2 separate regions of the Homo sapiens genome follow, and region 2 is linked to region 1. Evidence: fine-mapped expression QTL. A gene starts in region 1. The other region holds a variant in brackets. All regions are shown on one strand. Distances are between the middles of the regions. Region 1 holds the start of WNT11 (Wnt family member 11). Region 2 overlaps WNT11 (Wnt family member 11).

Region 1 (15,285 bases):
ACTAGGATGTTAGTGGGAGGCAGGAGAACTGGGTTCCAGGGTAGCTCTGCTATGCACTTGCTGTGTGGTCTTGGGTAAGTCACTTGCCCTCTCTGGGCCTAGGTCTCCCCATCTTAACAACAGAGCTAATCACCTCTGCCCAGCCTCCCTCTCAAGCCAGTGGCAAGTCTCAAAGGAGCCTGCCCATAACTGTGGCAGGGCTTAGAAAACTGGAAAGCTCAACTTGAGGTCTGGGATGGTTAATAAAATGAGCAAACGGACCTTGAGAGGGACTTCTCTGAATCCCCACCAAACAGACAGGTAAGTCAGTTCCCCTCTGGTCTACCCCGCATCCTTCTGGCTACAGATCTAGCCCAGGTCTTCTCCCTCTCACAGTCTGTTCCTGGATTGAAAAGGACAGAAAAAGTGCTCTTCCCAACAGGGCTTGGCACTGAAGATGCAGAGCAGAGGTGCTAGACCAGAGGACTAAGGGCCCTGCTTCCCACAACAGATGTGTCCATGCAGGTGGCTCAGCTGCTGCATTAGTGGCCAGGCTGTCCCTCCCCTCCACTAGCCCAAGTCATTCCTGCTGCTACCCCACTTTCCCCTCATAGGCTTCCAGGAGCTCCATCTCCCCTCACCTCCCCATCCAACCCCAGACCTGCCCCAGACTTGAATCCCAAACCTGACCTTACCCCTTCCCTCTTCAGACCTCCTCCATGTCTCTCTTGGCAAAGCCCAAGCTCCCTAGCCCAGCACTGAAGGCCCTCCGTGGCATGGGCCTGGCTTCCTCTCCCGTTATTCTCCCTCCTGTTGCTCTTCATGCCAGCAGCACCGAACCACCCACTTACCCTTCTCTGAAAGCAAACTTCTTCTTGTCTTTGCTTACACTGTTCCCCTGCTGGGAACGCCCTCCCCCTTCCCCGGCCACCTGACAATTCCTCTCCCACCTGCACATTATTTATATAGACATGAATGCTAAGTACAGATGAGCTCTCCATCTGGAACTGTTTACGTACCTGGCAGAAAAGGAACTAACCTTTATCAAGGACCGATTACGTGCTGAGCATTTTACATACATCATCTCTCCTTTAAGCCCCACAGCAACCCAGGCAATAAATTTCACTCCTCCTATTTTTCAGGTGAGAAAACTGAGGCTCAGAGACATGAAGTGTCTCTTCCAAGGCCAAACAGAAGTTGCTTTCGAGTTGCAACCCCAAACTGTGTGATCCAGAGCCCATGCTTGTTTTAGGGCCAGGTGGAAGCACTTCCCTTAGGGTTATATCTGTGTCCGGGGACACCATGTACATAAAAATACTTGTTATTAAGTGAGGTTGTGCTGCTTTGTAATGCTAGGGACCATCGTGATGTGCCTAAGGCTATCCTATATAAGAGGGGACCCCAGGAAGACAGCCAGGACCCCTGGGGGAATCAGAGGTCTCTGCTCTAGACGGAGGAGGATCTTCTCCAAGACAGAGCCATTCATAATGGAAGACACCATCCTGGAGGGAGTGAGCTCCAATCCCTGGCAACTTTGGAGCAATTACTGTTTGTCCAGCCCTGGTGCAGTACTGGGGACATAGCAGCACATGACAGAGCTATCACTGGCCACATGCTGCCCCAGATCAGTGGAGACATTACAGGGCCTCTGGTGGCCAGCACCTTGGGGTTATGAGAGGGGGTGGCCCAACGGTAAGATTCTAAGATTCTGAAATGACATTAGACAAATAATTGTGTATATATTTAGCTTTTTCACTCTTTAAGCCTGGCTGCTTCTTGTCTCTATTGCTACATAACAAACCATGTCAAGATTTAGTAGTTTAAAGCCATAATTGACTCTCGTGCTTCTGTGGGCTGACCCAGCAGCTCTGCTGACCTTGTTGGGCTCGCTCGCGTGGCTGCATTTGACTGATGGGCCAGCCGATACAGCAAGGCCTCTCTCTGCCCCAGCCTGGGCTTCTGACCTTGCAGCTGGGCTGGGCCCCAACAGGGTGAAGGCAGAAGCTGCAAGGCCCCGAGTCCTGGGCAGCAGAACACAGGCTACATCTACTAGTCAAGCAAGCCATGAGGTCAGCCCAGATGGAGGGGTGGGGACAGAGCCTTCGCTTTTGCATGGAGTCACATTCCAAAGAGTCTTTATGTTCTGGGATGGGAGGAATTGGTGCTACTAAAAAGCTGCCTCACTGGCCTGCTCAGAAAGGCTTCAGAACCAGTGACAAATAACTGCATGGCTTATGCCTGGATGTCAGGAGACCTGATATCTGTCTCCTGCACCACTAACCGAGTGATGTGCGACCCCTCTCTCGGCGTCAGTTTCTCTATGTGTACAGTCGGGGCACTGAGCATGGTAGGTCTCTGGCCCTGTGTGTGCGTGTGATGGGGTGAAACTCAGACAATGCCGCCTCTCTTCTCCCAGGTGCAGAGACGCTGATTTGTACACATATCAGAGAAGCAGAGGCCCAACCATAAAAGAAACTGCCATCCTGACACAAATGCCCCTGTGGCCCACTGCTTCCTATGCCTCCTCTTCTGGTGACAGGCACTGCACCCAGCCATGCCCAGAGCCAGTTTCCCGTGGCAATAACAGATGTCCATCAGAGGGAGAGTGCGTGACTCAAACAAGGCCAATCAGCCGCCTTCCCTGGGACTGATTCAGAGGCCCAAGGAGACAGAGGTCTCATTTGACTGGAATTTCTAACTGGGGCTGTTGGTGGCTGCATCCCAATGGGGAGAAATGAGGCCCGGGTGAGTTCAAAGAGAGGAGGAAGAAGGAGAAGTGAGTTTGAGACAGCACAGCATCTCCAGGGGACCAGCACCAGCCCTGAGCCCTCCTGAGTGCAGTAGGGCCACCAGCCACCCCAGTTTCTCCTGCAGGAACCAGTTTCTCTGGTGTTGAAGCTGGTTGGGGTTGGGTTTCTTCTCTCCTGGAGCTGAAAGAGGCCTGAGAAACACACACATTGTCTCCTGAGCAGCCACCACCATGATTAAACAACTGAGAGTTGAAAGCAGGCTTTCAGATGTGACGCCCTCAGTAGACATGACGGGTGGCATTTTGTTATGTGCACCCAGGAAAGACACCTCCCATCTCTCCGTGGTGCCCCCAGGCCTGCTCCCTGAGCCCTGTAAAATAACAATACCTCCCCTGAGGTAACTGAAGGGGAGGAGGAAGACATACCCTACCCTGGGCAGTGGGCAGAGGTTCCAGAAACCCACAGACCCGGGGTTTGCAGCCAGGCCCACTCACTGACAGAGAGATCTTGTATGAATTACCTGACAGACCTGGCCCAGTGTGCTTATCTGCAGAGCAATGCCTGTCTCAGGCATAGGCACAGAAACTGCCTAGCACACAGTAGGTGCTTGTTCAACCAATATGACTTCTTACAACATTATTTCTCAATAACATCGAGAAGGAGTGGTTTCGTGGCTTTCTGTTTTGCAGATGATGAAACTAAGGATCCCAGAGGCTGAGTGACTTCCCCGGAGTCCCTCGGTGGGTAAGTGGAGGAGGTGAGTCTGACAGCCAGGCCCAGGTGCTCTGATGACAGGCCTGCTGCTATTTTGTCCCCTTACCCCACCCTTGCCTGGAAGATCTGGCCTCACAGGGCATGCCAGAAACAGCTGGGCTGGGTTCCTCTGCTCAGACCCCCTGTTCATGTGTCTTCTCAGAAAGGCCTTTCTAAAAGCACCCTGGTGGTGGAAGCAGTACGCTTTAGTCTCATTGTAACCAATGAGAAATGGGAAATGGTGATGACGGCCTCTGCCCTGCCCTGCCCTCCCTCGAGATGTGTCCAGGACCAGGATGAGGGATCTCAAAAAATGGTTCTGGCCGGTGCAGTGCCTCATGCCTGTAATCCCAGCACTTTGAGAGGTCAAGGTGGGTGGATCACCTGAGGTCAGGAGTTTGAGACCAGCCTGGCCAACATGGTGAAACCCCTGTCTCTACTAAAAATACAAAAATTAGCCGGGTGTGGTGGTGGGCACCTGTAGTCCCAGCTACTTGGAAGGCTGAAGCATGAGAATCGCTTGAACCCAAAAGGTGGAGGTTGCAGTGAGCTGAGACTGCACCATTGCACTCCAGCCTGGGCAACAAGAGCGAAACTCTGTCTCAAAACAAAACAAAACAAAACAAAAATGGTTCTGGGAAGCCAGCATCTGCCAGGTGGCCTGGGGTCGGGAGAGGGAGAGTACCTGTGGTCTTCCTTCATTCACATTCATGGCTCGTCCTATGGCACAGGCTGGTTTGGTGGTGAGAAGAGCATGGCCCAGGGAGTGCTGGTTCCAGGCTAGAAAGAGTCATCTATGGAGCAGGTCCAAACCCAACCAGGAGCCTGGGACCCATGAGTCCAGCCCATGCCAGCTGCCCCCAGCCAACCCGCAGACATGGGAGGGAGAGGCGTGTGCTTGTGGATGATGCCACAGAGACTGTACACAGCAAAAGTGGAGCAAAACACTGTCGCTTTTTTTTTTTTTTTTTTTTTGAGATGAGTCTTGCTCTGTCACCCAGACTAGAGTGCAGTGGTACCATCTTGGCTCACTGCAACCTCTGCTACCCAGGTTCAAGCGATTCTCCTGCTTCAGCCTCCCAAGCAGCTGGGATTACAGGTGCCTGCCACCACACCTGGCTAATTTTTGTATTTTTAGTAGAGATGGGGTTTCGCCATGTTGGCCAGGCTGGTCTTGAACTCCTGACCTCAAGTGATCCACCCACCTCGTCCTCTCAAAGTGCTGGGATTACAGGCGTGAGCCACCACACCTAGCTGTCACTCTCTTTTGAGTCCCTTGGTGAAGCGATAGCGGTGAGCTGAGCGGTGCCCCACCACATCCCCCCTTCACACACCACAAAGTCGTGGCCCAGGGTGCGTGATCTTGACCCTTCTCCTTACTGGCTGCTTTTGGCTTTCTCTGGAAAAGCCTTTGTTGTTGTGGGAGGGATAAAGTGCTGAGGTCTGAGTAGGGGTAGTGGGCTTAGGGAAGACAGAGAAGGCATTGGGGGGGACATCTGGGGTTGTGGTCACACAGCATTCTTGGGTCAGGAGCCCCAAGATGTGTGGGTTCTAGAGCTGAAAAGGCCCTTAGAGGTTCAACCCTTCACTTATAGATGGGCGACTGGGGCTCAGACAAAGCAAAAAAACTACCTGCCATCACACAGCAAACTAGTGACGGGGCTCAGGACTGCAACCAGTTTTCCTGCACCCCCATCTGGTGCCCCTGCAAACAGGTGACTGCCCCCCACCATCTCCACCAAGGTTTTGGCCTCAAGGGAAGGAAGCTGAAGTGGGCAGAGGGCTCCCTCAAGGTCAGCAAGGCGAACGGAACTTTGTCCGCCCTTACCTCCATGTCCTTTCAGCCTGGGTGCCTCCCTGGGCAGGGTGGGTACAGGACGGGGGTGGGGGGAAAGGGGTGTGCCCCTGGCCAATGGCAGTCAGGCAGGGGCTGAGAAGCCAGCTGACAGGAAGCCCCCAGCATGTCTGGGTGATCAGATCACCAGAATCGCCTGGGCTGATTGAGAAGAAAGATATATTCACATCCACGTCCACAGCAGCAGCAGCCAGGGGCATGGGGCCTCATCCCCTCTGAAGAGGAGCCTGCAGCCCAGGTGGCCAGCACAAGCCAGATACACAGTGGCCCTTGAGGAGGACTGGACAGAGGGAAGTAGAAGGGACGGCAAGGGGGTAGGTCAGTTGGTTCTAAAGATGAAAACAAAATTCTTCTCAATTACTGCCTATTATGCAAATGGAGAGACTTGGGTGCAGGGAGGGGCAGACCCTCACCCCAAGTCTCCCTTGATTTTCAATGCAAGCTTTTGGCAACACTTTCTCATAGCCCTTCCCCCTACTCCCCTCCCCAGGCAGGTTTCCAGCCCTAGCTGATGCCTGGGTCCTGATCCACAGGACACAGCTGAGTAGCTGGCAGGTGGCAGGAGGGGGCAGGGCTGAGCTTCAGGAGTATGGGATGTTCTGCTGGTTTCCTTCAACTCCCCACAAGACAATGGAAAGTCACTATCCTTCCCCCATGTGTTCACTGGGAGCCACCAGCCATAGTGGAGTCTGAGCCAGAGATCTGGGTTCATATATCAGCTCCCTTTTGAGCCTCAGCTTCCACATCTGTGAAATGGGAATACTAATCCTGATCTTGGAGAAGTAGAGGATTCCATGGGATTGTATTATTCCCATTTTGTGGGTGAGAAAACTAAGTCTTGGGGAATTTAAGCAACTTGCTCAAGATTACACAGCTAAAAATAAAATTGGGCAAAATCTGTATTGGAATCCAAGTTTACATGACTCCAAATTCTTCCATTTCTACTCTAGCCGGGAGCCAGAGGGGATTTCTGGCAGGACTGCTGCAAATGTTTGGAGGCAACTGACTGAGCCTCTTAAACGGGCAGAGGGTGCGCATCCCAATCAGACAGAGACCACCTGGAATGGCTCTGACTGAAGTGGCCGGGGGGCCTGGGGCAGGGGAGCTGAAGACATTCTTGGGCCCCCGGAGGCCTTTGCTCTCTGCCTCTTAGGTGGAATAGCCCCCGCCTTCCCTTCCTCAATGCCCCAAGCCCACTGTCTTTCCACTGCTTTTTTGATCAGATTGCCCCAGTGTTCTGGCATGAGAGATGGGGGTGTCCCAGCGTATGTTCCAAAGGATATCCCTGTGATTGTGTGCAGAAGTACATGTTAGGCATTGTACACTTGGGAGCTGTGTGTGCATGGAAGCTCACGCATGTTTGCACCTGAACTGTGTGCGCGCAGGTGGTCTGTGTGCAGCCTCCCCTTCATGATGTGTGTACGGCCATTTCACACCTCTGTGCTACTGTGTGTGAGGGCAGATGATATGTCCTGGTATCTCCCGAGTGTGTTTGTAACCATATGCGGGGTGATATGCCCCAGCCTGTGTGTGAGGACTGGCTGTGTGGGAGTACTGGTATGGCTGGGAGGCTGCTATGGGCACTGTGGGCCCAGATGTTTGTGTTGTATGTGGAGGTACCTGTAGCTGGGTGTGGGGCAGCCTAGGAGTGCCACTTCATCTGCAGCTGCAAAGAATGGGGAAAAGAATGTCAGGCATTTTGGGGGACCTGAGACAGGCTCCGTGTCCTCACTAAGTCTCCATTTCCCTTTCTGCTAATGAACCAGTTATCCTTGAGGACGTCCTGGGATTGAGGCCCCTAGAAGGAGGGGGAGACATGGATGAACCCACAGCACCCGATGGGCAGTTAGAAATCGCAGTCATGTTGTGGGGTAAGCAGCTGGTCTGCTCAGGGGAGGCCAAGTGAGGGGGTCCAGAAGCACCACACGCCTGGGCTACTCGACGCAGGAGGTGCCTCTCTAGGCTCCTTTAACTTAGGAAACCCAGTCCTCCTCTGCTCCCCCTCCCCTGTGTCCAGAACACTCCCCAGCAGTCACCCCAACGGCTGGGACGCCGCCCAGCTCCACACCTAAGGTTTACAGCGGGCTTTGTAGCGCGGAGTCCTCGTGTCTCTTTCTCTTGCAGGATCGTTGATTCCTTTTCCACAACTGGAACCAGAGGCCAGAAGAGATGGCCCCCCGAAGGACCAGGACTAGGACACGAAGGCAGGTTTCGGGACCTCAGACGTCTACAGTAACCACGCTGCGCGACCAACACCTAAGGATGCCCCGGCTCCAGACTGAGACCCAAGTCTGACTTCCCCCTGCCAGTTGAGGCTCCTTGCCTGGTTGCTGCGACGATTCGAGATGGGCCTTACCCGGGCCCCACGCGTGTCGCAGGCACGCAGCACGCACGCTTAGTAAACACCAGCTGTAGTGAGCGAGTCCCCCTTTGTAACTCGACAGAGTACTAAGTTCTCTGGAGCGGCGGGCGCCGCCGGTCAGTGGCGTCCGCGGGGACCCCGCCCCCGCCCCCCGCGCGCGGCCGGGGCCACCCGGTGGGGTTGCGACGCGCTGACGTGGGCGGATCAAAGCGGCCGCCCGCCTTATAAAGCAGTTTGGGAGGCTCGCGCCGGAGATCGCGCCAGGCGAGGAGGAGAGCTCGGGCGAGCGGCGAGCACAGGCCACGGGAGCTGAGCGCAGCAGAGAGCAGCCGGAGTCCGCGCCTGACTCCGCGCGGGTCCTGAGCCGGCCGCAGCTTGCCAGGATCCCCGGCGTCCTTCTCGCGCCGCTTCACGAAGAGGGCGCCTTCGCCGCTCGCCCAGCCGGAGTGCGCACGGGCCCGCTGGAAACCGCACTCGCCGCTCCCTGGGCAGGCCGGGGCACCCGGGCACGCAGGGCGCGCCTGGCGAGCGCCCCGGGAGGTGAGCAGTGGTCGCGGGCAGCGGGCAGCCGCTCAGCGGGGACCCGCCAGGGCTGGGGGCGCCCGAGTCCGAGGGGGACGACGCTTCTCGCACCCGCCACGACCCCCTTGGGCACCCACTCCCGGGTAAGCAAACCAAGCGCTCCTCCATACCTTTCCCCCGCAGCACTCCGAAGAGTTCCCCTTTGCGGAGCGAAGCCTCGGGAGCCTGGGGACGCGGGGTTTAGGGGCACGCGGGACGGTGGTGGGTTGTGCAGTTCCTGCGGCCCTCCTCGAACTTTCCCGGCCCGGCCCCCCTCTTCTGCCCCCGCACCCCAGGCGACCCCCTCCTTCCCAGTCGTTCGGCGGATGAGGTCATGCCCGAGCCACCCCCGGGGGTGGGGGACTTGGATCCCGCGACAGAGGGTGTGTGTGGTGGGCGGGGGGAAAGGGTGGCAAAAGGCAAAGAAATGCGGCAGCGCCTAGTAAATTGGGGATGGGGGCAGAAGCCTGGCTTTGAGAACGGGTCCCAGGGGCGGCGGGGGGAGGGGGAGAACCGAGTTTGTTTACTGACCTGAGCTCCAGGCTGGGGGCTAGGGAGGAGGAAAGTCCTGTCCCCGGCCCCGAGGCACATCTGCAACCGCCCGGAACATCTGGCTGAGCTCGCGCACGAGCTCCACGCCTCCCACCCCCGGGGCTGAAGTGCCTCGGTGTCCCTCAAGGCCCTGGGCGTGCAGGGTCCGGCTCCAGGGGGTTAGCAGGAGGGATCTCGAGTGCTCCCACCCACCCTTCCCACTTCCAAAACAACCCGTCTCCCGGGTGACCCGGCGCCGCGTGCGCAGCCAAGCAGACGTCTCTCGAAAGCCTCACGGCTGGGGTCAAAGCCGGGTGGCAGGCCCGGCCTCGCCCCGCCCCGCAGGTAACCTTGAAGCCGTCGCTCGGCGTCCCTGGTTGGCGGGGTCAGCTCCGTGAGCTGCGTGGCGGGAGGCTTCGGGACCCGCCCGTGCCGACCTTGCGCGCCGCGCGGACAATCGGCCCCGGTGCACGGTGCCCGTGGGGCGTCGGGGTAGGGGGGACCCCGCAAGTCCTCGCCGGGCCGGCGTGGCCTGGTCCCAGCGGCCGGCTTTCCAGAGTCCTCCACAGACCGGGCCTATGACCATCTGTTGGCGGCGCTGGGCTGCGGCGCTGCGCTCGTGGTGTTCTCCCTGTGCACAGCCCCAGGCGGCCGCCTCCCGGGCCCGCTGCAGGCAGGGTAGCTCGGACCAACTTCGAGGAGGTGACCGCTCGCTCTCCAAAGGTGCTACGCCTGGCGCGGCCCACTACGCGCCCGGCCCCAAGCAAGGGGCCGGGCAGGTCAGGGCGGCCCACGGCAAGTGTCCTATAGAACGACCAGGACACAGGGGGCACTCCCTCGACACGTCGTCCCATCCCCAGACGGAGAAGCGGGGGCCCAGGAAGAGGACTTGACCCCAGCCCGCGACGCAGGAGGCAGCCGCGATTCCCCCCTCCTCGAGCCCCGGCTTAGCGCCCCCTGGCGGGCTGGGGGCTTCAGGAGGCGCGTGCACCCTGACCCGCGAGCTCAGGCGGAAGGTGACCCCGTGGCCTGCGCGGCTGTCCCGGGCGCTCGTACAAGGGACAGGAACAGTCCGTCAGGACCCAGAGGCTCGGGCCAGGCGCTGCCTCCCCGCGCGACGAGCTTGGGCGGCGGAGGGAGAGCCTTGGGACAGCCGGGGCTGCACCGAAAGAGCTGGGCGGGGCTGGAGGCCTGGGTCCCCGTCCGCTGTGCGACCTAGGGGGCTCCTCCTCTCCCTGGGAGACCAGGCTGGACACAGATCCCCCGCTGTGAGTCCGCGCGCCTCCGTCCTCTTGCAGCCCCCGCCCCCTCCCCACCCAGGAATGCCGGGTGCCTTCGGGGGGCGGCGCACTTTGGGAGAGGGGAAGACGGTGACTGGAGTTTTGATTCCCCCCTCCATATCCAGCGGATATTTTTCTCGTTCTGAGAAGTGCAAGAAACTTGCAGGACCAGGAAGACAAAGGATTTGGATACAGGCTGGGTGGGAGGACGGGACTGGGTTACACCGAGAACCCCTCTGAGACCCCCAGCCTTGACGGCATGTTTGTCGCAGGCGCCCCTGTGCTGGGCGCTAGCTGCGGGGCTCTGCGGAGGAAAAAAACTGTACGATCCAGGCTTCTCCTCGCCTTCCTGTGGGTTTTGCCGACAGGCTCCAGAAAACAGTGGGGCTTCCCATCTCTGCGTGCTGACTACCCACGCGCAGGAACGCGCCACGCAGGTGGCGTCGCGGTGCAAATAGCAGAGGGGCGCTGAGCCCCGCAGGCTGCAGGGAGACGGGGTCCTCGGGGGACGCACGGCGAAGCCCCATTCCTCGTTCTTATGGAAGGGGACACCGAGGCTGGGGTGGCTGAGGGCTTGCCCAAGCTCACAGAGCCAGATAAGAACGTCCCTTTTCTGCTCCAGCGCCCCCACTACCGTGGGCGCCTCCTTTTCCAACTCCCCAAACCCTTAGAAAGGAATCCCTTTGTCTCTGCTCCTCCCGAGGGGAGAGGGGCTGGGGCTGTGTCTGACTCCGGGCGAACGCCAGGTGTTGGTAAATTTGGGAGAAGCTGGGAAGGGAGTTAATGAGGTGAGAATGAAGTGAAGGAGAAAAAAAGCGGAGATAGCTGCTCCGCGGGCTGCGGGCGGGCGGGGCAGCCTCTCCTCCGCGGCCCGAGGGCGCCGCCTGGAGGCCAGAGGCAACACCGCGCCAGCCCCGCGAGCTTCCCCGCTTCGCTAAGGCGGGGCTGCCCAGTCCCAGCCCGCATGCTTCCACTCCCACCCTCCAAAGTGGAGCGGCTAAAGACGGACTTGGAGACTCGGAATCCTCACTGTACAAAGAGCCCTACCATCCCGTTTCCCATCCTCCCCTTCCCACACCGAGAAAGCAGGGCCCCGAGCAAGCCCCATTTCCTGATTTCGCCGGACACCCGGCTTGCCGCTCCCTAGCTGAACCCCACCTCTGTGCCTCAGTTTCCTCATCTGTGAGATGAGGCAGCGATAGTGCCTATCTCACGGGGTGCTGGGAGGAGCAGATGCGATCGTGTTAGGGAACTTTTTTTGTTTGTCTGTTTGTTTGAGACGGAGTTTCGCTCTTGTCGCCCAGGCTAGAGTGCAGTGGCGCAATCTCCGCTCGCTGCAACCTCCGCCTCCCGGGTTCAAGCGGTTCTCCTGCCTCAGCCTCCCGAGTAGCTGGGATTACAGGCGCCCGCCACCACGCCCGGCTAATTTTTTGTATTCGTAGTAGAGACGGGGTTTTGCCATGTTGGGCAGGCTGGTCTCGAGCTCCTGACCTCAGGTGACCCGCCCGCCTCGACCTCCCAAAGTGCTGGGATTACAGGCGTGAGCCACCCTGCCCGGCCAGGGAACGTTCTTTATAAAAGCGGAATTGTGCCCGAATTGCCCCAGCTTACTGAGGAGGTAAACTGAAACACGTTTGGGAAGGAGAATTGCCGAGGCCCTATTAACTAATGCTCAATATTGCAGGGATAAGCCCCAGCTCCGGGTCCTCGACTCTGCTGCCTCGCCTGGACTCCTGATTCCTCATTCCTCTCCTTTCCGTCCCAGGTTGCGTCTGTCCGGGTTTCCCCCTCTGTCTCCGTGGCTCTCAGCCTTGTCCTCTGAGCGTCCTTCTCCCTCTCGCTGTGTCTGCCCGGTCTCTCCTGGGTCTCCGGTTCTGCCGCCTCCTGTCCCTCCTTCCGGCTGCCCCGGCCAGAGGGGCTCGAAGGCGCGTTGGGGCCCGGGGCCACGCTGGGAGACACGCCTTCGGCCGCGCCTAATTCGAGCCAGGCGCGGGACGCGTCCCCCGGCCGGGCGGAGCGGGAGGGGACGCCCGCCGCGCTCGGCCTCCCCGGGCCCCGACCCCTCCTTTGTAATTTGAATAAAACGCCTCCCCCGCCCGCGCGCCGCCTTAACCCGCCGCCTCCGCTCTCCCCGGCTGCAGGCGGCGTGCAGGACCAGCGGCGGCCGTGCAGGCGGAGGACTTCGGCGCGGCTCCTCCTGGGTGTGACCCCGGGCGCGCCCGCCGCGCGACGATGAGGGCGCGGCCGCAGGTCTGCGAGGCGCTGCTCTTCGCCCTGGCGCTCCAGACCGGCGTGTGCTATGGCATCAAGTGGCTGTGAGTAGGGACCCCGCGTCCACGCGCACAGGCCAGGGACTGGGGCGGCGGAGGGCGTTTTGGGGTCCCCTGGATGGGGCGAGCGCACCAAGACCCGGGAGCCTAAGCTGGCTTGGCGGTCGTGGGCAAGTCATCCCTCAGCCTCTGTTTCCTCCTCTGTAAAATGTCCCTGCCTCCCGCAGGCTTGCGAAAAGGGAGTGAGACGGGCGTGGACCACAATGGAAGCGCCTGGTCCTGTGCAGCTGACGGTGGCGCAAGGGCCACGGAGTTTCTGGCCACCTCCGCAGGGGCAGATGGAAAAAGACATTCTGTTCAGGGGGCGCAATCCAGAGCGGCCAGCCCAGGAGCGGTCCTTGTCCGTCAGTCTCCTTGACCCTAGCGGGAGTTCCGCTGAGACACTCCTGACCCCTCCACCTGGGCGACCTTGGGAAAGTGTCACTCTACTTCTTGGGGCCTCCTTGTCCTCCTCTGTCACGGGAGGGTGAGACTCCCCACCTCCCTCAAATCAGATGAGAAGAGGCTCCTGAAAGGACCTCAGAAGCTGTCAGATGCCACTGTGCACATGTGCAGGGCATTCCTTTAGATAGAAATTATTCACGCAGGGGTAGGAGGGAGAGAGAGGCTTGGTGCCGAGCTGAAGGGAGTGCCTGCTCAGGGGGCTGGGGGTGGTGAAGAGAGGAGTAAACACCAGCCCCTTCCCGGAGGAGCTGCGCTCTAAGTTGAGAGAGATAAGCCCAGGCTGTAAATAACTCCACAAGTGTCCAAGTGCCCGAGGAGAAACCAGAGCGGGAATCTGGAGGCCTAGAGGAAGGAAGCCCACCTGGTGGGGACACAGATGTGAGACACCGGGAAGCTTTTCCGAGGCTGTGCCTCTGGTGACTGAAGCGCTGCTGGGAGTTGGCTGGTTCGGGCAATGGAGAGGACGCTGTGGGCAGAGGGGCTCCCTGAGAGGGAAAGTCCAGGACAGGACAAGGGTCTGGAATCTGGGGCCAGGGCAGGGAGCCTGCAGATAAGACAGCAGGGGGCAGGTTGTGGGGGCTGGGGAGGGCGCTGCAAAGGGTTTGTGAATTAGTTGGAAGACAGGGTGATAGTGGCTGCGCCGCCAGCAAACAGTCTGGAGGTCACTGGCCCTGCCCCTTCTCAGGCCAAGTTATTGATTAATTGACGATTCGAGGAGGGAACCCCGTCTTCCTGCCTTTCTTGTTTACAAGAAGCCTGGTCTCAGCAATCTCCCAGCCCTGGGCACTAGCTTTTCCCAGCTGTCCCTGAGGAGTTCTGTGAGAAACCAGCCACCTTCCTTTTGCAATGGGGTACCCAGCACTGTTCCAGCTGGCAGGGACCTCCGATCAGCGAGTCCAAGCTCTCTCATCCACCGCCACCATTTTACAGATAAGGATACTAAGGTCCAGGGAAGGAGAGGATTGGCTGAAGGAGCGTCAGAGGCCTTGCAGTGGGCTTGGGTGTCATTTGCCGCCCATAAGAGTCCTGTGGGGTCACTGCCATCATCCCTGCTCCACAGTGGGAACACCGAGACCCTGCAAAGGGCATGATGCACGCAAGCCCCCACGCTGGCCTGTGGTGGGATGGACGGCTGGCTAAACCTGACGTCCATGTCCTCTGTCCCCACTGCAAAGTCAGGCTGCCACAGAAATGGGTACAACTCATTGTGTGCCTTAAATAAGCCCCCAGGCTCTTGGGGGAGATGGACATATAGAAATACAAAGTGGACTATGGTCTGTGTCCTAGCAGAGGGAGCATGGCAGCCCAGAGGAGGAGTGATCAGTTCTATCTAAGGGAGATGCATAGGCCAGGATTGGAAGGACAGGGAGGATTTGGATGGTCAGAGACGGAGTGCAAAGCAGGCGTCCTAGGCGGGAGGCACAGCACGAGCAGAAGCCTGGAGGCCGAACAGCGCATGCGGGGAGACCTGGAGAAACCAGGCACCACAAGAGCCTACTCCTAAGTGCCCCAGACGCTGCTCCGAGAGCTTGGGTCATGTAAGTTAGATCATACTGCACTCCTATGAGAAACTGATAGTCTAGCAATAGGGGATTAAAGTCTTGCTAGAGTTTAAGATAGAGGGGGAGGTGGGAAAAGGGGTGGAGTTTAAGAATAACAACGATCTGTGTATGCATGTGTATATATAGATACACGTGTGTAGGCCACGTGCATATATCTATGTATATGTACATATATGTCTACACACACATGGCCTCACTTTGTGCTAGGTGCCGTTCTAAGTGCCTTATGTATATTGTTCCATTTAAATATCCCAACCACCCTGTGAGGTGGGTGCTGCTATTACCCCCGTTGCACAGAAGAGGAAACAGAGACTGGGGCACACAGAGATGGGGGACTCTACCTAGCAGGGTGTCACAGCTCAGAGGTAGTAGAGGCAGGATTTGAGTTAAGCTGCCTAGCTCTGTGGACTGTTGGGCACAGGGAGCCCCAGCACAGCTGGGAGCAGGGAAGTGTTCAGTGAGGCTGGAAAGCCGGGGACTCACCCAGGAGCCTCCGCTGGCCTGGGCTTTGGAGAGTGAGCTGGAGATGAAAGGGGCACTTGGCACAGGAACTGAAAGCCAACATGGCCCAGTGGCCTGGAATGCTCACCTGGTGGGTGCCTGGGACGCAGGCTGAGCTGGTGGGATGGGGGCTGGGGAGAGGGGATCAGAACCTGGCTGCCCATAGAGGCACCTGCCCAGAAATAACCTGGGGATCCTTCCCTACCTTACCTCCACCCAGGCCAGGCACCAGAAGACTCCCAGCCCCTCAAGTATTCGGGGTCCCAGGTCTGGGCTGTCCACCCCCTTCTTGGCTTTCCTGGGTAGGGGGAGGGTTTGAGGGGAGTCCCACTCTCCTGTGAACCACGGAAGCGGTGGGGTGAGAGGAAAGGCCCAGG
Region 2 (14,976 bases), 29 kb after region 1:
AAGCCTGGTGTGAAGGGAGCCCAGAGGGTCCCTGATCCAGCCTGGACATCAAGGAAGGCTTCCTAGAGGAGGGGAAATTTAAGATTGATGATGAGGTTGGGGGTTGGGTGTAAGTGAGCCTGGTGAACTGTGAAAGGCGTGTGCATGCGGGGTATCTCTAGAGGCTGCCTCCCTCTCTGCGGAAGATGCCTTGCAGCCTCCTCAAATCTAACCTGGGGAAACCAAGGCCTAATCTGCAGACAATATTCCAAACCCTAGCCCTCTTGTCATATTTCTTCCAGAGGCCTGCACCTCTGAAACCCACCCCCACCCACAGTCTGAGCCACCCTGTACCCTGGGAGCCAGGCATCCAACGGCCCTTCCCTGGGCCTATGGCCCCACTGGCCCCAATCCTGGTCCCAGGCACCCGGGCCTTGTCTGGATCTGACACTGGAGGCCAAGTTTTCAGACAATGCATGTCAGGGATCCAGAAATTTAAAAAAGAACTCTGCCTCCTTCCTACCCTTCAGGGTAGAGTGCTCAGCCAGAGCCTTCAGGAGAAGGCTGAGGGGGAACTCATGGATGCCAAGTGGCTAAACAAAGCCCAAAAAGGTTCAGTGACCTGCCTTAAGTCACACAGCCACTAAGTGGCAGAGCTGGGGCTTGAACCCAGGTCTGTCCAGCTCTGGGGCAGGTGTTCTGGGAACTGCTGGCAGCCCCCACTTGCTGGTCACCGGCTGACTCTCCCCAGGCGCTCCCCTCCTTCTGCCCATGGCCCCTTCCGGCTCAGGCCTGGCCTCTCCCCCAGCACTGATCAGCCTCCTCCGGGCCTCCAGCCCTCCCCTTCCATCTGCTCTCACTGTTCTGAGGGCAGGCCTCGTCTTCTGCCTTTGCCCAGGCTGTTCCCTCTACCCCAGCACTCCTTCCCTCCTCTGCACGGCGGAGTCTTGCTTATCCTTCATGAATGGCCTAGATGGCCTTTCCTCTTCCAGGAGGCCCTGCTGAACTCTCACAGACCTTGTACTCACCACGGGCAAGGCCCCTCTCCCTTCTGTGTCTGTTTCCCCATCAGTAAATATGAGGATTGCATTCGGTCATCTCTAGGACTTTCCCATCTTGGACATTCTGGGATTCCTCGGCCCACATGTGGGGACCCTTTGTCCCTGTCAGTGCCCCAGCCCCCTGCTGCTCTGTCCCCAACTACATCTCATGAAAACACTCCCTGTCTAGCCTCAGCCCAGCTAGAGGAGCCACCAGTCTGAACAGATGATTTGTCACTAGACAGAAGAACTGAGAGCAGTGGAAGGATGTTTGCATTTTATAGGGACCTTCAATGTCTTCGCATCCCACATTTGGGAAGAAATGCAGCCCCTGCTGGCTCCCATGCCCCACCCTTTAGGGTAGGGAGAGCAAGTCAGGGCCTTAGTTTTAGTCCCCAAGTTTAAGCCTCTGCCCTTTGCTGAGCCTGTTTTCATCTGCATAATGGACGTAATCATTCCACTGACCCAAGGGCCCTACAGGCCTCCACTAAGATAAGACACTGGAGGGAGAGCCTGACCCACAGGAGGCACATGGCCAACAGACCCCTATTCCTCCACGAGCAGCGTGTCTGATGCCCAGTGGGGGTTCGAGTATTTCAGCATTTATCCTAGGATTCTAAAAATCAAATGATCTTGACATCTCTCATAATATTTAATTAAAGATTAAATATGGCTGTGTGTGGTGGCACACGCCTGTAATCCCAGCTACTCGGGAGGCTGAGGCAAGAGAATCGCTTGAACCCAGGAGGCAGAGGTTGCAGTGAGCTGAGATTGCACCACTGCACTCCAGCCTGGGCAACAGAGCGAGACTCTGTAAAAGGTTACACATAAAGATAGGCTTATTAGATTGGTTGGAGGGTCCTTCCAGTATTTAGAAGTAGAAGAAATAGAAAAAAGCTATCTCCAAGACAACAAAACAAGGCTGGGCACAGCAGCTCATGCCTGTAATCCTAGCACTTTGGAAGGCTGAGGTGGGAGGATTGCTTGAGCCTAGGAGTTCAAGACCAGCCTGAGCAATATAGTGGGATTCCATCGCTACAAAAATAAAAAATTAGCCGGACATGGTGGTGTGTGCCTGTAGTCCCAGCTACTCAGGAGGCCAGGGTGGGAGGAGCACTTGAGCCGGGGGCCTGGGTGGTGGGGAAGGCGGGGGTCAAGGCTGCAGGGAGCCATGATCACAACCACTGCACTCCAGCCTGGGCAACAGAGTGAGACCCCATCTCAAAAAAATAAAAGAAAACAGCCCCATCATTTTGGTAACCCCTTATTAGAAATATAGGGAAAAGTTAGAAGTACCTTTAGGTAAGAGGATTATTTAAAATTCCCCAAAGATCAAGACAGCTTCTAAGAAGGGCTGAGTCGGTGGCCATGGGAGACGCTGCCGGCTGCCTGGCTGGGAGTCATGGGGTGTTGGTGGGGTGGTGACCAAGGCATGCACTGACCTCCTTCCTGCCCCCACAATAGGCAGTGCAACAAGACATCCAACGGAAGCGACAGCTGCGACCTTATGTGCTGCGGGCGTGGCTACAACCCCTACACAGACCGCGTGGTCGAGCGGTGCCACTGTAAGTACCACTGGTGCTGCTACGTCACCTGCCGCAGGTGTGAGCGTACCGTGGAGCGCTATGTCTGCAAGTGAGGCCCTGCCCTCCGCCCCACGCAGGAGCGAGGACTCTGCTCAAGGACCCTCAGCAACTGGGGCCAGGGGCCTGGAGACACTCCATGGAGCTCTGCTTGTGAATTCCAGATGCCAGGCATGGGAGGCGGCTTGTGCTTTGCCTTCACTTGGAAGCCACCAGGAACAGAAGGTCTGGCCACCCTGGAAGGAGGGCAGGACATCAAAGGAAACCGACAAGATTAAAAATAACTTGGCAGCCTGAGGCTCTGGAGTGCCCACAGGCTGGTGTAAGGAGCGGGGCTTGGGATCGGTGAGACTGATACAGACTTGACCTTTCAGGGCCACAGAGACCAGCCTCCGGGAAGGGGTCTGCCCGCCTTCTTCAGAATGTTCTGCGGGACCCCCTGGCCCACCCTGGGGTCTGAGCCTGCTGGGCCCACCACATGGAATCACTAGCTTGGGTTGTAAATGTTTTCTTTTGTTTTTTGCTTTTTCTTCCTTTGGGATGTGGAAGCTACAGAAATATTTATAAAACATAGCTTTTTCTTTGGGGTGGCACTTCTCAATTCCTCTTTATATATTTTATATATATAAATATATATGTATATATATAATGATCTCTATTTTAAAACTAGCTTTTTAAGCAGCTGTATGAAATAAATGCTGAGTGAGCCCCAGCCCGCCCCTGCAGTTCCCGGCCTCGTCAAGTGAACTCGGCAGACCCTGGGGCTGGCAGAGGGAGCTCTCCAGTTTCC[A/G]GGCAAGGCGGCTTCCGATTGATGTCCCTTCTCCCCCCGCGCTCCCCCCACACCAGGCCCTGGCCCTGATCTCCCTGTAAGAGCTCTTGGTCAAGGGCGAGGACAGACGTCTTGAAACATAAACCCAGCTGGCAGCATCTTTTTTCCTCAGGGACACACACGCAGGCGCAGCTCAAAGCCTGGCCGTGTTGTCAGGCCTGCCTGCTAAGCTGGCTTCAAGGGAAAACACTCCCTGGGCAGCTGGGATGCAGACTTCGGGGAGGTGGTGCAGATCCAGGCTCTAGCTAGCCCTGGTGGGTTTTCTGCGTGACCCTGGGGAGGGCTCTCTGCCAGCTGCAGTTTCCCCATTTGTAAAATGGGAGTGGTGGGGAGGAAGGCTGAAGGTTGGGAAAGGCCTCGTGCCTGGAGGCTGGCAGCATTGGACGTGTTGAGAAGTGGTTGGATTCTGGTTCTGTTTTGAAGGGGGAGCCAACAGGATTTGTTCTCTTTTTGCATGTGGGGTGTAAGGGGAAGGAGGCCCAAGAATGACTGCCGGGGTTTTGGCTGGAGCACTGGGAAGGCTGAAGGGGCCGAATGCCGACATGGGGGTGGGGAGAGGCCTGGGGTTCAGATTTGGGCCCGTGGGGATTGTGATACAGTTTACGCTCCTAGTGGAAATACTGAGTGGCCGGGCAGATATCCGGGTCTGGAGTGCTGGGGAGCGGCCAGGGCTGGAGATCCACATTTGGGTGTCATCGCTAAGGGAGTGTGTGGGATAGAAGAGTAAAGAGGACCAAGGCCTGGGGCACTCCTGCCTTGGAGGCTGGGGAGATGAAGCTCAGAGAAGACACAGGAGACAGAAGGAACAGCCAGGGAGGCAGGAGGGAGGTCGGCGGTCCTGGCTGTTGCCAAGTGAAGACAGGGTGCCAAGGGGAACAGGATCACCGCAGGCACATCACTGTCCCTCTGAGCTTCCGTGTCACCTCCCTCATGGAGGCAGCACCAGTAACCAAGAGATGAGTAAGTGGGGTATCCCCAGTGCCTGGCCAGGGCAGGTGGCCCCGAAACAGAAGCAGTGGTTCATCACCTGGATCTTGCTGTGGCTGGGGTGTAAGAGGATGTTATAATCCAAATCTCTGCATGCACCAGAGAGACTCGGACTTAGTACCAGTGCTCTTCCCTCCCCGAGCCGGCTGAGGACTGAGACACCACCTGGAGGGGCTGGGGCAGAGCGGGGCCTTGCACAGGATTTGGAGAAGTGAAGCCACATCCTTGGGGGTGGGATGGCATGGATGACCCCTCAGGGGCTGGACCCATCCTGAGTGGGAAGAAGGGGGCCTTCTGTGGCCATCCTCGAGGCCCTGCCTGAAAGCTTGCAGTGCGGACAGCCAGAGCCACAGCGTCACCAGCTGCAAGGAACCTCAAGATAAGTCTTCTGGTGTGTTTTGCAGATGAGGAAATTCAGAGATGGGAAGGGCCTTCCTGTGGTCACAGAGCTGATAAGGGGCTGGGAACGGGGGGAGGTGGAGCCTTCCCGGGTGGGGCCCCTGCCAGCCCCTCTGTTGAAAACCCCCAGCCTCCCTGGAAGGAGCCCCTGGAATGTGCGCTCTCCAGGCCCAGGGCTTCCCTGCTTCATAGCTCTCAGCAACCTCCTAGCCCACAAAACCAATCCCCAGTCCCTAGCCTGGAACACAAGGCCTGTCCCCCAGGCGATTCTTCCAACAGCATTTCCTGCAACTCCCAGCTGCTCAGCCTGCCTGCCCTCTGGGCATCTGCTGTTCTCCCTCGCCAAGAGTGCTGTTTTCCCTGCTGGAATCCCACACAACCCTCACAGCCCTCTCCACAAAACCTTCCCCAGTGCCCTAGGTGGAAGGGATCTCCCCCTCTTCAGGCACCCCACAACCCTCTGAACATTTAAAGCAGCCATCACCCTCCTTCTCAAGCTGCCAGCCAATGCCCTCTTCTGCAAAAGCCAGGTAAATGGCTCCCTCCTCCAGGAAGCCCTCCCCAACTACCCTCAGCCTGGGTCAGGGGCCTCCTCTGGGTTTCCACAGCCTCTGTGCTCCCTGCAATGTTTCATGGAACCAAGGTGTTGTGGAGGCCTATGTTGTGTCATATCATCTGTCTTCCCCACCTGTCTGGGGCCTTTTCATGGGCTGGGACCAGCCATATGCACCAATGGGCCCTGGGATCTGGGGGGCAGCACAACAGGGCTGGGTATAAAACATACCTCCAAAATGTTGGATTTGGGAGTGTCCTTTGGACCTCTGTCAGGACAAGTAAATGGGGAAACCAGACCAAGGACCCAGAATGGCTCTCAGAAAGGGTGGCCACATGATATAACTGCTACCATTTATTGTGCACCTGCTGTGTGACCTTCTAAACACAGTGGCCCAAGTCATCACAGCAGCCCTCCGAAGTGAGTATTGTTACCATTGACAGAGGAGGAAACTGAGGCTCTGCAAGAAAAGGCGGCTCGCTCCAGACCTCAGGAAAACTCCCAGCACAGCAGGGCTCTGAGCGCAGGTGCGTTCCTGCTCACATGTCCGCACTCCCAGCAGGCTCGGGGGAGCTGCATGGAGAGCTGAAGACCGTTTCCTGGGCTGAGCTGGAGGGCTGGGAGGGGAGTCCTCAAGCTCAGGACAGGAGACCCTGGGGGGGGGTCCCTGACTCAGCGGGCTACTGGCCCGTCCCCACATCTGTGACAAAGCACTTAACCTTTCTGGCTGGCCAGGAGCTGGACAACCGAAGGGCAGTGGGAGCTGGTCCCGGTGCTTCCCCTCACCCCCAGGTCAAGGCTCTAAGAATGCAACCAGGCTGAGCCCCACTCCGGGGAGGTGGATGCTGGGGCCTCTGCCAGGTGCATCACAGGGGTGTGGAGGCTCCCAGGACCTCGGAGCTCTGGTAGCTCAGGATCTCATTGTGTTCAGAGATTTGGAAACGTGAGATCTTGGTACTCAGGAATTGTGGAGTAGAAACCCCAAACCACTGCCTTGCCAGCCCTGTAGAGGCCCCCAGGCCAATGGCCAACCCAAAGGATTTTGAAGGCTGCATACTGATCTGAGGGTGTCAGAATTCTTGTCCCCAGCAGATTTCCCTTCCCAGGACTTGCTCCATCTCCCTCCTGTGTAAGGGGCAGCAGTCACAGACAGGGCTGTGTGAGGCTTGGAGAGCCCCCGAAAGATGGAGACTCCCCAGTGATGACAGCACCAGCCGCTCTGAGGCGGCTCTGAACCAAGTGTGGGAGGCTGGCTGGAGACCTGGGAGAGACAGGGTCTGAGGAGGGAGACAAGAAGGCGGCAGAGAGGAAACAGGAACTCCTGAAAAGAGGGAGAGATTAGTTTGGTGGGAAAGGGGAGAGTGGACAGATAAGACCCCGTGAGGAGGCCAGGCCAGGCCAGAGGAACAACCAAGGGGCCCAAGCCCAGCCCTGAGCAAGCCACTGGTCTGTGGTTCCTGAGGCTGTGGAGACCAGCCACTGGGTTACACAAACCAGGCCCCAGCATGATGCAGTCTCCAGTCCGGAACCCCAGACCCAGAGAGGCTGGACGGGGTAAGGGGAGTTTAGGGCTAGGAGGTAGGAATCCTGCATCTTTTCTAGCTTCTTGCTGTGTGACTCTAGGCAACCACTGGCCCTCTCTGGGCCTCTTCGGCAGTTGTTTTGTCCAATTCTTACACCCAATCTAAGGGATATGACCCAGTATCTCTGTTTTATTGATGAGGAAACTAAGGCTCAGAGAGGGAAGTGACTGGCCCAATGTTAGAGAATAATTAGTGGAGGAGCTGAGATTCAAACCTCGGACTGCTTGGCTCCAACTGTTGGGCTTGTCTCAGCCTCCACAACATGCATCCCAGGGATGAAGGTGGTCTGTGACTGAGTGGGGGTTTTGACTGGGAGCCGCTGGAGGGCATTGCAAGAGAGGAACAGGGAACAATTCAAGACTGAGCAGTTCCTGACATCTGTTGCAGGGCCTGGGAAGCGCAGTCCAGGCGCAGGTGCCAGGAAGGAGCTGCCCATCAGGATCAGGCCACAGCTCAACTAACACGTTCCCGCCCTGCCCTCCTCAGGTGAGCTGCTCAGCATCGCCTGTGTGCCTGGCCGCCCAGGCCTCACCTGTGTGTGTGTTGGCGCGAGGGACGGGGGAGCACATGAAGCTCAGGTGTCCTCTTCAGTGGGCCCACAACTCTTAGTTATTATAGCAGAGAAGACAGGAGGCCGAAGACAGGCAGAGCCCTGGGGCTTTGGGGATTTGGAGAGGGAAGGCCTACTCCTTTCTGGGTACTGGGAGTAAGGAGTGGGAAATCAGGAAGATTTCATGGAAGAGGTGCCATTTGCATTGGGTCTGGAAAGTGGGGCAGGATTTTAAGAGATGGAGAAGAAGGTGATGTGGAGGGGTCTGTGTGAGAACAGCCATGGCAGCAAAGTATGCTCAGAGGAGGCCAAGAGGTGGGTATGGCTGGAGCTCAGGGGCCTGTGGGCACCAGGGCAGCAAGGATCCAAGCCAGGCTGCCTTGGGTCCTGCCAGGTATCCAAGACCACCCCCAACAGGGCACTAGCAGCCGACTGGTCTGACCGCCGCCTGCCCGCCAGGCCACCCGCCCGCCCGCAGAGCTGGCTGGCTCCAGGCAGAGCAATTTAACAGCCGCACGTTTAATGGTCCCTTTGCTCCCATATACCAAATCAATATCCGCTCTGCTCCCCAGGCTTGTGGCTGCTGAAGACAGTCTCCTTACCGGCCCCTTGGTCCACATTGTCTTACCTGCTGGGCGCCAGCAGAGGGGCTGGAGCGCTGGGGCAGGGAGCCCGGGGTGGGTGATGGGGGAGGAGCAAGAGGAGGACGTGGCTGATCAGGACAATCATCCCAGACACCCCCATTCAGGCTGGCAGGTGAAGGCAAGAGCTTGCCAGAGGCCCAGCCTCCAGTGCGCCTGGGCACAGATGCCGTTCAAATCGGAGTATTTATTTTATGTCTCCACTGTCTGCGCATCCACAAAAGCATGCGGTCCTCAAGAAGGTGGTGGAGTAGGAGGCTGCCTGAGGGCTGCAGGGACAATAGCCCGTTAGATGTCATTACCTCGGAGCCTCCTTCACACTCAAGATTCCCAGAGTCCATTTTTCCTAGAGTCTGGTCCTCCATTCCGAACCATTCCACGGCCCTGCGATCTCAGGACACTGGACTCGAGACACTACGAGTCCATCATGCCTAGTACTTGAAGACTCCAGAACTGTCTGCCATGGCTTTCTGCACCTGAAGTGCAAGATTTCTCTTTTCTTGCATCTACACCATCCTTGCCTCCCCACGTCCCCTCCCCCGGAGGTTGCCCTCTCTTCCAGTCCCATCTGACCCAAGGCAGAGTGGGAGCAGCAGGCAGGAGGCCACTGCAGGCAGACCCTGGCTCTCTTCAGCCCTGGCCTTTCCCTAGACATCCCAGGTGAGAGATGGGTAACCGGGGCACCCTCTGATCCAAAGCCAGCTCCTGGGGCCTGGCTCTTCATCCTGGATGGTCTTCCTGCAGGCCTGTGATGGGGCTCCGTGCTCCAGGTGACATCTGGGTCGGTTTGGAGGCTGTTCCCTCCTGGCAGTTGCTGTCCTTCCCTCCTGCTGTCTTGCTGGGTGGACCTGCAAGCCCCTGGGGGCTTCTCTCGCAGCAAACAGAGACTCCATCGGCACCAGGGGCTGATCCAGATTCTCCGGAATGATGATCAACACTTCCTGTGTAGGCCAAAGCCCAGGCATGGTGTAAAATCCATTTAGGAGCAAAGAAAAACAGACCCCACCACCTCCTGCACATACACAGCGTACCTCCCATGCCAACACCCCCACACCCACCCACCCCACCCTCTCTCTCTCTCCAGAACACACATGAAATGCAGGAACTCTGCGGGAGGCTGTCCTGGGTAGCAGGCAGGAGCACGGCCTGTCAGAGCCACACAGACAGGGTTTTAACCCTGCACTGCCCCTTCCAAGCTGAGTCACCCTGAACACATCACAGCACCCCCAATTCCCTTTCCTTGGCTGTAAAATGAGGGTGAACACAGCTTGTCCTGACACTCGGGAGAGGTCAAGTGTGTAAAGTCTCCAGCACCCTGCCTGGCTGACCAGGCCCAGCCAGAGCTAGGTGGGTTGTGCCTGTTATACAACCTGCCATTCCTTCCCCAAAGCTCCCCTGAACTTGGGCTCCATGCCCTGCCCTGTGCTGCAGGCTGGGGACACAGGTAAGCCAGCTCCAGCTCCTAGACTACACACCTGCTGTGGGTGAGGGACAGGTAACCTGGGCACCCTCTGATCCAAGAGCACCAAGGAGAGATGACTCTGCTGCGGGAGGGGCTGGGGAGGACCATGTGTTACAGGCACAGGCCTGACTGTGGCTCCTGGTTCTGCCCTTGCTGGCCGTGAGTTACTTCAGCTTTCTGAGTCCCTGTTTGCTCATCTGTGAAGCAGGATGAATGGCAGGACCCACCTCTTTGTCTTGTTGTAAGGCTCAAAGTAGGTAATGCACATCAAGCACTCAGCAGATAGATAGTAAGAGTTATCCACTGGTAGCCACTGTGATTAAAGAATAATTCAGTGACACAGTCAGTCAACAAACCTCCACCGAGACAGCCTCTGCAGATGCTGGGGTGTAAGAGCTGAGGCTAAATGGCTCCAGCCCTCAGGGCCCCAAAGCCCCAAGAGTCTGGGTAAGAGACTGTAATTGAGGGGTGAGCAAAGTGGGCTGGGGGCCCAGGGCCAGGGGCAAGGGGATAGAGTCAGGGTAGCCCTCCCAGGGAAGGCCCCATGGGTGCTGCAGCTGGATACAGAAGGAGGAAGAGCAGTGCCTGGCTGGACTGGAGGGGGACACCGAGGCAGAGGACAGTGTGGCCAAGGTCGGGGTGAGGAGAGCAAGGGCTCTTCAGGAGACACACTCGCAGGGGCCTTCCGGTTTCTGGAAAAGCCCAGCTCTGTGGGATCCCAGGGGACCTGCACAGGAGGGCTCTGCAGGGGTGAAGCGCAGCCCTGCCCTCACACAGGGCTCCTCTGAAGGCCGGAATGGAGCGCGAGCAGAGGGAGGCTTTGCCCTTCCTGACGAAGCCCTGCAGCCCTGCAGCCCTTCTCCCAGGAGACTGTGGGCCTCTGAGAGGGCCCGGCCCCACCATCGAGTCCCCCAGCCCCTTACAGCACCCTACCCGTACCTCGTGTGGTCCTGGGACTGCAGATGCTGGTGGACCAGGGCCTGCGAGGACACCATCTGTTCCTGCTGTCCCCCAAAAACCCGACCCAGGCCTGGTCCACAGACACAGCAGAAGCCCAAGGCAGCAAGGGCCCATACCAGAGGGGCTGGTGGACCCCCAGGCCCGAGGCTGGGGCTCAGGTCCAGGCTCTAGGTGGGACATGTGTGCCTCTTGAAGGATGCTGCTCACTGGTGAGTGGTGGGCCCCCAGACCCCATCTTTCCCCAGGCTAACCCCGACTTACAGACAAGGGAACTGGGACAAGAAGCCTGCTCCTGATGGGTGCTGGCTCCCAGTGGTTCCGACTTCAGAGGCCCGCAGAGATGCCTGGCCCTGTGCTGAAGGCCTTCCTGCCCTCTCACGACATCCATGTTTCCTGAGCACCTCTTGTGTGCTGGGGGCTGCCCTTGGTGCAAGGGTGCACTGGGGGGTCTCACTCAGAGCTCTCCAGGCCCTGGTCCCATGGAAGGGTTGCAGCACGCGTTGCAAAGGCCACAGCCCCACACCTCTGCCTGGGGACCTGGCTCCCTGCAAGGGCCTGGCTGCTGGAGGCAGGACGGCTGATCTCTGGAAGGAGCTTGCAAAGGGGCACTACTGGAAGGCACCTTGATTAAGAAACATTCACAGCAGCAGCCCCAGACTCACCTGCCTGGGATTATGGAAGCCTCGCCCTTGGCCTGCAGCTGAGCCCCTGCTGTGGTAACAAGCACACAACCAGCCCTTACTGAGAACTTCCGAGGCCCTACGCACAGGGCACACACGGCTCCTGCTGGCATAGCCACTCACATATCCTGTGAGTAGGACGTGGCATCATTACTACTGAAGAAACAGGTACTGTGGGTGACTCCGGAGCCAGACCAGGCCCAGCTCTACCATTTAATCCCTGGGTGACCGGTGCCTTTGTTTTTTCATCTTTAAAATAGGGACCAGGCCAGTCCTCCCTTCTCTGGGATGTTGAGAGAAGCAGGTAAGGTTAAGGGCTTGGGATGGCCTGTGGCAGAGTCGAGGTCTTGTAAATGATCAGCATGAAGATCCTGATGCCAGGATTTGGCACCTGGGCTCCTCTTCAGGCACTGCTCTGCCTACCCTCGTGGCTGGTCCCATCAGGCTGTTTCCATGGGACCCCCACTGCCTGGGGAGCTGGAGGCCTGGCCTCCTGTGATAGCCCCTGCCATGATGCTAGGCACAGACCAGGTGCTTACAAATGGCCGCAGTGTGTATTATGTTGGGGAGGAGGGAGAATTAGTGGCATTTGAGGGTGCTTCCATGTAAGCCTGACGCCACCACTCCAAGGCCTCCCATCTCCCTAGGGCATCCATCCTTGTCGTTGCTGGGTCCTCCCACCTCTCAGCTCGAGAGGGATTGTCCCATTTTACAGGTCCCCTTCGCCTCTGCTCACTAAGGGCTGGAGGCTCAGGGAAGCCTCAGTCACTGGAGAGAGAACCAGAAAGACCTTGGAAGTCAGCTTCTCCAACTCTCCTGGCCTCAACCCCACTCTACAGATGGGGAAACTAAGGCCCAGAGGGGCAGGGCTGCCCCCAGTCCCGCTGTGTGTCAGAGGCAGATTCCCTGGCTGTGCTCCGGCCTCCGAGGGGCTGGGGGGCTGTGGGGTCTGGGCCGAGCAGGGCCTGTTGTAATCAATCCCGCCACCCTCGCCTGCTTTGCCCTCTGAAGCATGGTCTTCCCCTCTCCCTACCAGAGAGGGGCCTGGGTCCTGGCAAGCTGGGGGAGGAGCAACACAAATATTTAGTCTGTGTGGAAGGGAGCAAAGCTCAGATCTTGGCCCAGTGGCCCTGCCTCAGGCCCTGTGCCAGGAGCCACATCACAGAGGACCATGAGCCCCCCAGTGTCCTAGGGCCCCCATCACAAATGATTTTTTGCACAAACCTGTTATGGTGCCAGAAATTCCACCATTTATAATTCCTTGGGGGTGAGACATCATATCTTCCCACTAGGCTCCCTTTTCCAATAATAATAATAACAATAATAGCAACATGTGCATGTCCAGGGGTGTACAGTTAACCCAGGACTTTCCCATCCCCCACCCTCATAACAGCTCGGTAAGGCAGGTACTGTTTTAGCTATTTTGGACGGGAAACCAGGACTCAGAGGGGTGGTGGGACTTGCCCAGGGTCACAGAGAGCAGTAGGCGACTAGACTCAGGTCCAGGTCTGACTGCAGAGTCCTGGTCTCAATCTTGGTCCCCCTAGGCAATGGCAGCTTGAGGTGGTGGTGCCTTTGGGTTCCTGGAGGAGGGAGCCATCCTCGGCCGCAGGCCTGCAAGGGGCCCCCTCCTGGGTTGGGGCAGGGACCAGTTGTATCCCAGGTTCCTCGCCTTTTCCTCTACAGCCAGACATCTCTCCAGTCTCAAACCTGGCGGAAGTTTGACACCACAGGGATCTGATTCCTGCTGAGGGCCTCAGATTTAACCTCCTCTCCTCATCCCCCAGTCCTGAGCCCCTCTGGGTTCCTATCTCCATGAATGGGAAGTGCTATCGTTCCCCACCTGCTTTAGCGTCTCCCCCCTGCCCCCGCATTATGCAAATCCTCAGGCCCCACCCCAGACCTACCGAATTGGAAACTCTGGGGAGCAGGCTGGAGACTGAGTGGCACTGCTGGAGCACAGGCCCCGGCCTCGCCACCCTCCTGCCCGACACCCTCTGTGGCTCCCCACTACCTGCAGGATCAAGCCTAGCTCCAGGCTGGCATGGAGCCCCCCGGTCTGGCCACCAACCTGCTCTGGACTCTCCCCTCCTAGCCTGCTCCTCTCTGCACCCAAGCGCCCTGCACTCCTTCCCAGCCACCGCCCTGTAGCCCACACTCCCCACGTGGCTGTCTTCTTGCGTGTCTCCATCCCTCCTGCCTGTCCCTGGGCAGCCTGGAAACGTCGATGATCCTTCACCACCGTCTGTGGCAAGTCCTCCCTGACTTCTCCAGGCAGAGGCCCCAAATTAGTACCCACGGCACCCTGGGCTCCCTCTGGGACAGCTCTAGTCACCCTGTGTGGTCCTGCTTGTTTCAGTTTCATACAAGGGCTGGCCCAGGGAAGGCCTCAGTAAATGCTGAGATGGAAAGAACAAGAGAGTCTGGCTGCAGAGACAAGGGGCTACATCTTCTAAACTGAGCCCAGCTGGTTTAGATCATCTCTGGGTCCTCCCACCCCTGCTTCACTGTGGGCCTTCCTGCCCCGTGGGCTTCTGTTTCTCCATGTGGCCGGAGGGGGCAGAGGCAGCCCCTTGCTGCAGCTCAGGGGCCCCTGGGTCAAGGTCACAGTGCCCTTCACTCCAGGGCTCCCGTTCTGTCCACTTGCCTCTCCCACCACCACCCCAGGAATGGTGACCCCAGCACCTGCTTAAGTCCCTCAGGCCCCACCCCAGACCTACCGAATTGGAAACTCTGGGGAGCAGGCTAGAGACTGAGCGGCACTGCTGGAGCACAGGCCCCGGCCTCACCACCCTCCTGCCCGACACCCTCTGTGGCTCCCCACTGCCTGCAGGATCAAGCCTAGCTCCAGGTGTGCCCTACACCCCCAGCCCCATGGTCCATTTTATGGGGTGGAAAATGAGGCTGGGGTAACAGCTGAATCTGCGGGGGGTCCAAGTCACCCCTCACTGGGCTGGCTGGGAGGAGGGGAGCCAGCTCCTCACCAGCATCTGGTGCTCACAGGGGCCGGGTCGACCTGGGGGGGATCCTGGGAAACAGGCGCACTCCTGAGCCCCTCTGCACCTCTGTCTCCTCTCCTCTCACATGGCCATAGCCAAGCACACCTTGTGGGTGAGGGGCAGATGAGACACCAGACGTGAAGTGACAGCAGGGCCGTCTGTCTTCTCCACCAGCACCCCAGACTGTGATCCGCTCTGTGCCAGGGTGCTGGAGACAGCAGATGCCCTCCCAGCCAAGGGGCCCGTTCTCCCCAACATTACCGGTGTTCCAGTTGCTCCTTTCTGCTCTGTCTGCAAAGAGGTTCAACACCCCCCAACCCCCGGTGTGATCTGAGGGCTCTAGGAACCCCTCCTGCACCCAGGCTTGAGGGTCCTTCCCTGGGACTCCACCCTCACAGCTGCTCCCACTGGAGCCAGGCTCTTGCCTGGAAGAACTGCGGGTTCCCTGGGAGACTCCCCAGAGCCCCTCCTTAGTGGACCCAGGCCCACCCTGCTCTTCCCAGCTGCCCCTGGTCTGTGCACACGGCCAGGCCTGACCCTGATCGCTCCCTGTGAGGTCCCACTCTCCTCCAACCTCTCACCTGCGGTGTGGCCATCCAGATGGTCCACAGGCGGGAGGGGCCAAGCCAGGGGGGGCAGGGAGATTCTTGAAGGGGCTCATTTCCTCTGGGATTTCAGTGGTCACCTGCCTGACCACATGACCTCTGTCATCCTTTCTGGTCTTGAAGATG

What was found.
Region 2: its variant is fine-mapped to the expression of WNT11 in whole blood (INTERVAL, PIP above 0.99). The same link has a PIP of 0.9 or more in adrenal gland, blood mononuclear cells, lung and spleen.

Annotation. Positions count from the first base shown.
Region 1 is chr11:76,203,426-76,218,710 of GRCh38, reverse strand. It overlaps WNT11 (Wnt family member 11), which reads left to right and starts at 12,209. Exons shown (of 5, transcript NM_004626.3): 1 at 12,209-12,386. The coding sequence starts at 12,304. It overlaps LINC02761 (long intergenic non-protein coding RNA 2761), which reads left to right and starts at 2,621. Exons shown (of 3, transcript XR_007062785.1): 1 at 2,621-2,724; 2 at 3,419-3,486; 3 at 7,462-7,755. It overlaps LOC112268079 (a long non-coding RNA gene), which reads right to left and starts at 8,884. Exons shown (of 2, transcript XR_002957259.1): 1 at 8,792-8,884; 2 at 7,179-8,446. RefSeq lists silencers at 8,035-8,204, 10,857-11,076, 12,057-12,296 and enhancers at 8,417-9,083, 9,416-9,465, 9,084-9,750, 11,085-11,752.
Region 2 is chr11:76,174,747-76,189,722 of GRCh38, reverse strand. It overlaps WNT11 (Wnt family member 11), which reads left to right. Exons shown (of 5, transcript NM_004626.3): 5 at 2,484-3,398. The coding sequence ends at 2,658. Among named protein-coding and RNA genes, the nearest start is that of WNT11, 24 kb to the left of the region's middle. RefSeq lists enhancers at 2,262-3,041, 3,823-4,603, 4,604-5,385, 12,124-12,418, 12,472-13,214 and 1 more and a silencer at 4,757-4,946. The variant A/G (reference allele first, on the strand shown) is at 3,393.